2 separate regions of the Homo sapiens genome follow, and region 2 is linked to region 1. Evidence: fine-mapped expression QTL. A gene starts in region 1. The other region holds a variant in brackets. All regions are shown on one strand. Distances are between the middles of the regions.

Region 1 (4,396 bases):
GATATTGAGAACGCTGACTGTAAAATAATAATTTTCTTGCTATTTTAGCATTCATATCTTTTAACACTGAACTAGGAGCCTAAACAGAGATGATCTTCATCAATAATATTTGCTCTCAAATAAAAATTTGACATCTCATTGTTTTGTCAATGATCATCAATGTAAAATATATTTAGCCAAATGATAGTTTGAGTTACCTTCTATTTGATTTACAAGACAAATAACTAAGACATTTACCAAAAAATAATAATAATCTCTAAAAATCATTCTATCACTTCGATCAAGGCAGACAAAATTAAAAAGTCAAAAAGATTATAGTTTATTGATTTCCTTAGGCTATGTAAAAATAAATGTGGTCCTGTATTTTTCTTACCATGAAACAAAATATTGAACTCTGCCCTTGAGGCATACTACCATACTTCAAATGCTGATCTTATCATTGCTTGCAAGTCAAACAGAGTTGGACTTTAAAAGGAGGAAAGGAAAACCCTGGAGCCACTAAGAAGCATCAAGGGTCAAGCTGTTAGTCTGGTTCTGCTCAGAATTTACCCAGGGTCACAATGCCTGGATAAGGCCACTTTGCTTCCAGATGACATTTTTCAATACAAACACACAACCAGAATTTGAAATTTACTATAAAAAGAGCCATATTCTGAAATTGGTTTTCTAGTTTACTTGGCATCTTATTTGTTTTAATTTGGAACAGGAAATAGCAGAATTTCCCCCCATGTTCCGCATTTTGAATTCTGTATGCGATAATAAATAATCATATAAATTATAAAATAATAATGACAAAGCAAATAGGAAATTGGTAAAGAGTTAGATGGGGGATTTTCTAATGTATTTAAAGTAAGGGCCACATCCCTTCTATGCTCCTGGATGCCCATTTTGTAATAAATTGTGAAATGTATCCATCAGTTTCTAAGTTGTAGTTAAAAGCTCCTCAAACAATGCACAGCACACAGAATAATCTTAATTAATATTTAATTAACTAAATGTTACTTGTTTGCGTGCTTGCACACTTGCTTGGATGAGTGACTCCTTTAAATTGATCTCTTGCTTCTTTTTGAAAGATTTTAGAACTTCCTGTCTATGATTCCTGGAAACGGACACCACTCAGTAGGTTTCATGGAAAGGAATCTGGCATCTCCCAGCCATACTTATGTACAGAGTTTGTGCTGCAGCCTGGAAAATAGCTGTAACTGTGTCAAGCAAGGATCAAAATCCTGGTCTGGAGGAGCTCAAGCTGAAAACACAAAGGCTTAAAAGGATAGGCACTTCTTACTGAAATTACTCCCATAGGCACCTTCTAGCTTCAATTTAGACTGAAATGTAAAAAGACATTAACAATTTCTTATATTTCCCTCTTTTCCAAATTCAAAATCCCTTGGAGCAGGAAAAGGGCAATTATGGCTAATTATGACTATTACTCCAATTCTATGCTCCTGTTAGCAATCAGATTTGCATTACTGGAGAAAAAAAATATTATCCTAAATAAAACATTCTGACTATGATTGCTTAGGAGCCAATCCGAAAATGATTAAGTTTAAATTACAAGGGATCTTTTTTGAGGGGGGGAGGAGAGTTGATAAAAAAACCTTTTAGAAAGGGAATCTACACACTACTAAAACCAAACAAACACAAGGGGGCAGGAAGAGCTCAAGCTCTGACTTCAAAACCTGTTGGCTGAAATGAGAGCTAAACTATTTTAGTGTGCCCTCCGGATATTTATCAATTTTCGTGGCATGCAAAGAAATGTGATGCTGACAAGTAGATTTAGTTTGTGCTTGGTCTAATTACTGCGAAGAGAACAGGAACGTCTCTAATGACAGCTACCCTAACAGAGTCGGATTTGGGAGCGCCTGGGGCCACATTCCCTAGAATTTATTCTTTGGTGCAAGACTAGCAATTCTGATCAGACTGCATTTCTCACGCATTCCAAATGCCCTTTTTCCCTTTTACTCTGTGAACCTCGGTTGCAAAGGAGGGGCTTGTTAAAAACTCACCAATCGGAGGACTGTGCCCATTGTAATTCACGAGGAGAAGGCAGCGTCTGGGCGCGCCGAAGGGGGCTGGGCTGGAGTGCAACCTGCTCTAGCTATGGCTTTTAATTCCAGCTGTCCTTTTGCAAATATGCCCCAGAATTTCTTCTCAAACGCTCTGGGTTTCGCTTCAAACTCAAAAAGCATTGCGTCTAACTTTCCCCTGGGTTTGCAAGTTTCCTTGGGAAATGGCCATGCCCTGCGCGGGATTTCATTGACTAGGGCGGAGGGGTGGGGGTGGCTAAAATGGGTAACCCTCGGTCGCCGGCAGATGAAGTGAACCCAGCACAGCAGTGTGTTCCGGCTCCTCTGCAGGAGTACCAGATCTATTAATAGCAGCCCAGAGAGTAGCGCAAGCAGGGGTGGGCAACTCCTGGCCACTTCTTCCCTCACTTCCAGGACAACCTGTTGCGCCTCTATCTCCTCCCCTCCCCGCAGTTTCCCCGCCTTGGCCTCTAAGAGCTGATTGGCAGAAATTACTACCCAACCCTCAGCTCCGCACCTCCTCCCCCGACCAACGATTGGCCACCTGGGAGGACTGGAGTAAGGGGTGCGAGCGGAGGGATTTCCCTCAAAGCCCAGGGTCCGGGGACCTGGAAAGTAGAAGTGGAGGGATTCAATTCTCCGCGCGATTGAGGCGCTAGCGGCGGAGCTGGACGGCCTGGGAAGGCTTCGGCTCCTCGGCTGCGGCTCCAGCCCGGACGGCGCCGCGCAACTTTGCCATCCTTCTGGCCCAGCCCCGGCTACAGGAGGACCCCGCGGGCAACGCGCGGAGTTCCTGGCACTTCCCGGCGGTGTCTCTTGTTGTCTGCCCGGGGACCGACTTCGCATGCTCTCAGGCTGACCTGTCCAAGCCCGAACACCGGGACCATGCACTCAGCCGGGACTCCCGGGTTATCCTCGCGCCGGACAGGCAACTCCACCAGCTTTCAACCAGGACCGCCACCGCCGCCCCGGCTGCTGCTGCTGCTGCTGCTTCTCCTGTCACTGGTAAGCCGCGTCCCGGCACAGCCCGCTGCCTTCGGCAGGGCGTTGCTGTCCCCTGGTCTCGCGGGGGCTGCAGGGGTCCCTGCTGAGGAGGCCATAGTGCTGGCGAACCGCGGACTCCGGGTGCCTTTCGGCCGTGAAGTCTGGCTGGATCCCCTGCATGACCTGGTGTTGCAGGTGCAGCCCGGGGACCGCTGCGCGGTTTCGGTACTAGACAACGACGCACTGGCCCAGCGACCGGGCCGCCTGAGTCCCAAGCGCTTCCCGTGCGACTTTGGCCCTGGCGAGGTGCGCTACTCTCACCTGGGCGCGCGCAGCCCGTCTCGGGACCGCGTCCGGCTGCAGCTGCGCTATGACGCGCCCGGAGGGGCAGTAGTGCTACCACTGGTACTGGAGGTGGAGGTGGTCTTCACCCAGCTGGAGGTTGTGACTCGGAACTTGCCTCTGGTCGTGGAAGAGCTGCTGGGGACCAGCAATGCCCTGGACGCGCGGAGCCTGGAGTTCGCCTTCCAGCCCGAGACAGAGGAGTGCCGCGTGGGCATCCTGTCCGGCTTGGGCGCGCTGCCTCGCTATGGAGAACTCCTCCACTACCCGCAGGTCCCTGGAGGAGCCAGAGAGGGAGGCGCCCCGGAGACTCTCCTGATGGACTGCAAAGCTTTCCAGGAACTAGGCGTGCGCTATCGCCACACAGCCGCCAGTCGCTCACCAAACAGGGACTGGATACCCATGGTGGTGGAGCTGCGTTCACGAGGGGCTCCTGTGGGCAGCCCTGCTTTGAAACGCGAGCACTTCCAGGTTCTGGTGAGGATCCGAGGAGGGGCCGAGAACACTGCACCCAAGCCCAGTTTCGTGGCCATGATGATGATGGAGGTGGACCAGTTTGTACTGACGGCCCTGACCCCAGACATGCTGGCAGCCGAGGATGCTGAGTCTCCCTCTGACCTGTTGATCTTCAACCTTACTTCTCCATTCCAGCCTGGCCAGGGCTACTTGGTGAGCACCGATGATCGCAGCCTGCCCCTTTCCTCCTTCACTCAGAGGGATCTGCGGCTCCTGAAGATTGCCTACCAGCCCCCTTCTGAAGACTCTGACCAGGAGCGCCTCTTTGAACTGGAATTGGAGGTAGTGGATCTAGAAGGAGCAGCTTCAGACCCTTTTGCCTTCATGGTAGTGGTGAAGCCCATGAACACAATGGCTCCGGTGGTCACCCGGAATACCGGTCTTATTCTCTATGAGGGTCAGTCTCGGCCCCTCACAGGCCCTGCAGGCAGTGGTCCGCAAAACTTGGTCATCAGCGATGAGGATGACCTAGAAGCAGTGCGGCTAGAGGTGGTGGCTGGGCTCCGGCATGGTCACCTTGTCATTCT
Region 2 (4,396 bases), 63 kb after region 1:
GATCAGGGTGAGGAAAAAGTGCAGACTAGGAAACAATGTGCTTTCAGAATTTGTATCTGTTTATCAGCCTTAAAGTTTATGTTGCAGCATTATCCTTTTTCCAAAACCCAGCTTAGTCCATGCTTCCCATACTGGTAGTTTTAATAGCTTCAGAAGCATTCTTCTTAGTAAGCCTTTAAATCCCTTATCAGAGCTGGGCAGATCGTAAGGTTCAAATATCCACAGGGACTAAGATCCAACTGAAAACAGGAGGCCGACATAGCTCGTTGTACATTGTTGGTGATTTTAGCTGTGTTTTTTGGAACTGGCCAAAATCCTAACCTTTGTCTCTTCTGAGATCTGATCCCGCATTTGACTAATTAAAAAAAAGGGCTGGGGCATTATATAGTTAAGTTGCAAAAAAAGCAAAGCGTGTGTTCCAACAGTAAATGTGGTCTGTCTGTGGAACGAATATACCAGTAGTCAGTTGTGTTTACCTGAACTTATATTTTTCTTGGCATTCTACAAACTAACATATTTATTTTGCCATTTGGATTAGGAAATGGAAATGACATGAACCAGAATTTGTATTGCTGGTAGGGAAGAAGTTTTTAAATTGTATTTGGATTTGTTCCTCAAGATTATGATGTGCAGTTCTAACTATTAGTGTCAAATATGACAAACGAAAATTATGTGACCTGCATGTGATTGATACTGCACAGGCTCTCTGCTCATATCTGTGTTTTGGATGGTTTGTACTCAAAGGCAACTTGTCCCAAATTATGCGCTGTAGATCAGAGTCTTAACATGATGCCTTAAGACACAGGTTCCCTGCTGAAATGAGATTGAGAAATGCTGTGTGCTCCAATCCCTTCCTTAGACTTCCTCAGTGCATATTCACATATTAAAGACCCTAGGAATTACTGCAGGTAAGAATGTTGTTTACATAGCTTAATACAGCTTATTTTTCCCTTAGTTAACATAGAGTGATTTTTTTTAAAATGTAATACCTATTAACTACCAGGAAAAATAAGATTCAAAAAAATTATTTTGGGAAGTGCTTTCCCAAATTGTTCAACGGAAAAACATGTAAAGGATGCTGTGAGCTCTATGTTTTTGGAAAGGAAGGCATTTTTGTTCTTTGTAAGAACAAAGGTAAGGCTGTGCATGCATGTGTGTGCAGGTACATGTGTGTGTACTGACAAGCACATGTGCATTGGAACATGTAGTATTTCTCTTTTGGGCTACAATAAAGACATGGGAGTCTGGATAACTTGTGTTCAGTGCCCAGTCTTGTCTATCTGCAGTGACCTTAGGAAGCCTTTCTATTTTGTGTTCTCGGCTCTAACATGGGTTGGTGAAGCCTAATCTGCTTAAAACATCTAACATGGAAATCATCACCCACATATTTGATTTCATACTGAAATCTAAATCATGCATACAGTATCAAACTTTGACACAGTTTGGTGCATTTCTCAAGATCCTTCCTCACCTCTAACTTCCGAAAGGATTAGCCATAAATGTTGACAGTAGGAAAATTACTGGCTCAACTACTTTCTGCAACAAGAGAATAAACACTTCCTACAGGAAACTTTTCCACATCAATGATGGACTTGAAAAGTTCTGCATATTTATGTAAGAAGAGGAGGCAGTTTTATCATTTCATCATATATATTCACAATTCAATTTATAAGAAAACATGAATTACCAAGAAAAGTCAGATCATATGTTCATGTTAGGTTATAAATGTTGATATATCACAATATAACAAGTACAGACCACGGTTTCTCAACCCCAGTGCTATTGACATTTGGGGCCAGATAATTCTAATGCTTTGTGTGTGTGTTGGGTGGGAGGGTCTGACTGTCCTGTGCCTTGTGGGATCTGTAGCTCCCTGGCCCCTACCCATTAGATGTCAGTAACACCCCCTGCCTTGCCCTTCACCCCCTCCCCAACTTGTGACAGCCAAAACTATCTCCAGACATCGCCAAACATTCCCCAAAGGGCAAAATTATTGCCCCTTCTCCAAGAACTACTGGTTTAGACCTTATTATTAATTGTAAAGTCAATGTATTCACTTTCCAAGTCTGCTCTTTAAAAAGTTTATGCATGCAATTAGTATGAATTCTCTGCAGTAATCATTGTCTCAAATCCTCCACATATTCAAAAATGCCACCTGCATTTTATATTAACCAAGTGCAGCAAAACATAGTT[T/C]ATCTTGGCCTAGGAGAAAAATTTTGTCACACTGATCCTCATTTTCTTCCTAAGTTGAAAGAGAGAGAAGGAAAGGGGTAGGGCCTAACTTTTACCTGTATGTAGTATGCATTTGGATTTTGGCTAAATAGTTGCTTAGGACCAAAACTCCTCCAAGAAATTTATTCGTCATTTATTTTTACTAATCAAAATGAATGGACTCTTTGAGTACCTCTGATATGGTTTGGCTCTGTGTCCCCACCCAAACCTCATCTTGTAGCTTCCATAATTCCCACGTGTTGTGGGAGGGACCTGGTAGGAGGTAACTGAATCATGAGGGCCGGTCTTTCCCTTGCTGTTCTTGTGATAATGAATGGGTCTCACGAGATCCGATGGTTTTTAAAACGGGAGTGAGACTTACCTATGAGTGAGATCCATGTGTTTTGTGTTTTTCTGTGCCTAGCTTATTTTACTTAGTATAACGACTTCCAGTACCAACCATATTGCTGCAAATGGCAAGAGTTCATTTTTTTTATGGTTGAATGATACTCTACTATGTATATAGAACACATTTTCTTTATCCATTCATCCATTGATGAATACTTAAATTGATTCCATATATTGGCTATTGTGAATACTGCTGCAGTAGACTTGGGAGTGCAGATATCTCTTCAGTACACTGATTTCCTTTCTTTTGGGTATATACCTAGCAGTGGGATAACTGGGTCATATGGTAGTTCTGTTTTTAGCCATGCTGTTTTCTTCTTTTTTTTTTTTGAGACGAAGTCTCACTCTGTTGCCTAGGCTAGAGTGCAGTGGCACAATGTCAGCTCACTACAACCTCTGCCTCTGGGGTTCAAGCGGTTCTCCTGCTCAGCCTCCCAAGTAGCTGGTATTACAGGCACCCACCACCACACCCAACTGATTTTTGTACTTTTTAGTAGAGATGGGATTTTGCCATATTGGCCAGGCTGGTCTTGAACTCATGACCTTAGGTGATCTGCCTGCCTTGGCCTCCCAAAGCCATGCTGTTTTCTGTAGTGGCTGCACTACACTTTACATTTCCACCAACAATTCTACCACAGTTTTGTTTTTTGTTTTTTTCATCCATGGATAAGCACTGAGGTTGATTCCATGTCTCAGCCATTGTAAATAACGCTACAGTGAACATGGGAATGCAGATATTCCTTCAATATCCTGATTTAATATTCTTTGAATATATACTCAGAAGTGGGATTGCTGGATCATATGACAGTTCTTTTTTTTTTTTTTTTGAGGAACTTCTGTATTGTTTTTCATAAGGGCTGTACCAATTTACATTCACATCAACAGTGTACAGCAATTCCCTTTTCTCCACATCCTTGCCAACACCTGCTGTCTCCAAATCAATATTTCTTAAAGCGTGGTGCAAATTATGTCTCTCTATGCCCCAAGTTTCCTTTGTGAGCAGCCTGGTTTTCCAGCTTATCTCCTCCTCCCCTTTTCCTTTCACAAACCCTACAGAGCTTGACTCTTATTGCTGCCCACACACATGCTGCACTTGTCCTTCCCTGAATCGGTTTTCTTGCAGTTCCTTCCTCTGGGAGGGGCCCATCCTCCATCCACAGACCCTTGTGCCAAGCCTTTAATGGTCTTTCCAACCCAATGTGCTCCCCTCCCTCCTCTGAGCCCCAGGAGATTTCTGTTAGCTTTTCACCTTAGATTTTGTATTATAATGTATGTATAGTATTTGGTTTACCCTCCTTACTAGAGTCTACATTTCACAGAAAGGACTATATGTAAACCAACTTTATACTTCCTAACATATGTGCTTTTCATGGACCTCGTTCCAAAATATCAATTAAATAAAACTGTACATTGTCTAACTTTTTTTTTTTTCTAACAAGGACTGGAGCTCTAAGACCACACCAACTTGTTTTTGTACTTACTCTGTGTGTGTGTGTGTGTGTGTGTGTGTGTGTGTTTTCCTTTTGGCAGCCAAATATACAAAATGAACAGCTTTTATATTAATCTGAGATAGTGAAATTAATGAGAAGGGCTGCTTTTGTGGCTCTGGCACAATTCTAAAGGGATCAGAGCAATCACCAAAGGGTTCAACTAATTAAATAATACTACACGCTAAGCAGCAAAGCTAGCTTCGCAAAACTAATCTGAAATAAATGAAAAGAAAATGTGAAAAACAAGTGTATGACATTGATGCTGTAATACTCCATCCTCTCTTTGT

Alleles and levels. Alleles are on the strand shown, and positions count from the first base shown. SD is a standard deviation of normalised expression in the study named.
With allele C in place of T in region 2, the expression in amygdala of the gene that starts at base 2,645 in region 1 is lower (moderate effect, 0.60 SD a copy in GTEx).

Evidence for each region. PIP is the estimated chance that this variant, and not a neighbour inherited with it, causes the effect. A credible set is the group of variants that fine-mapping cannot tell apart.
Region 2: its variant is the best candidate, but not a certain one, in a credible set for the expression of FREM2 in amygdala (GTEx, PIP 0.89).

What each region holds. Positions count from the first base shown.
Region 1 is chr13:38,684,433-38,688,828 of GRCh38, forward strand. FREM2 (FRAS1 related extracellular matrix 2) reads left to right here and starts at 2,645. Exons shown (of 24, transcript NM_207361.6): 1 at 2,645-4,396. The coding sequence starts at 2,913. LINC00437 (long intergenic non-protein coding RNA 437) reads right to left here and starts at 2,243. Exons shown (of 3, transcript NR_126377.1): 1 at 2,007-2,243.
Region 2 is chr13:38,747,763-38,752,158 of GRCh38, forward strand. All of the region lies in intron 2 of FREM2 (FRAS1 related extracellular matrix 2), which reads left to right. Among named protein-coding and RNA genes, the nearest start is that of FREM2, 63 kb to the left of the region's middle. The variant T/C (reference allele first, on the strand shown) is at 2,194.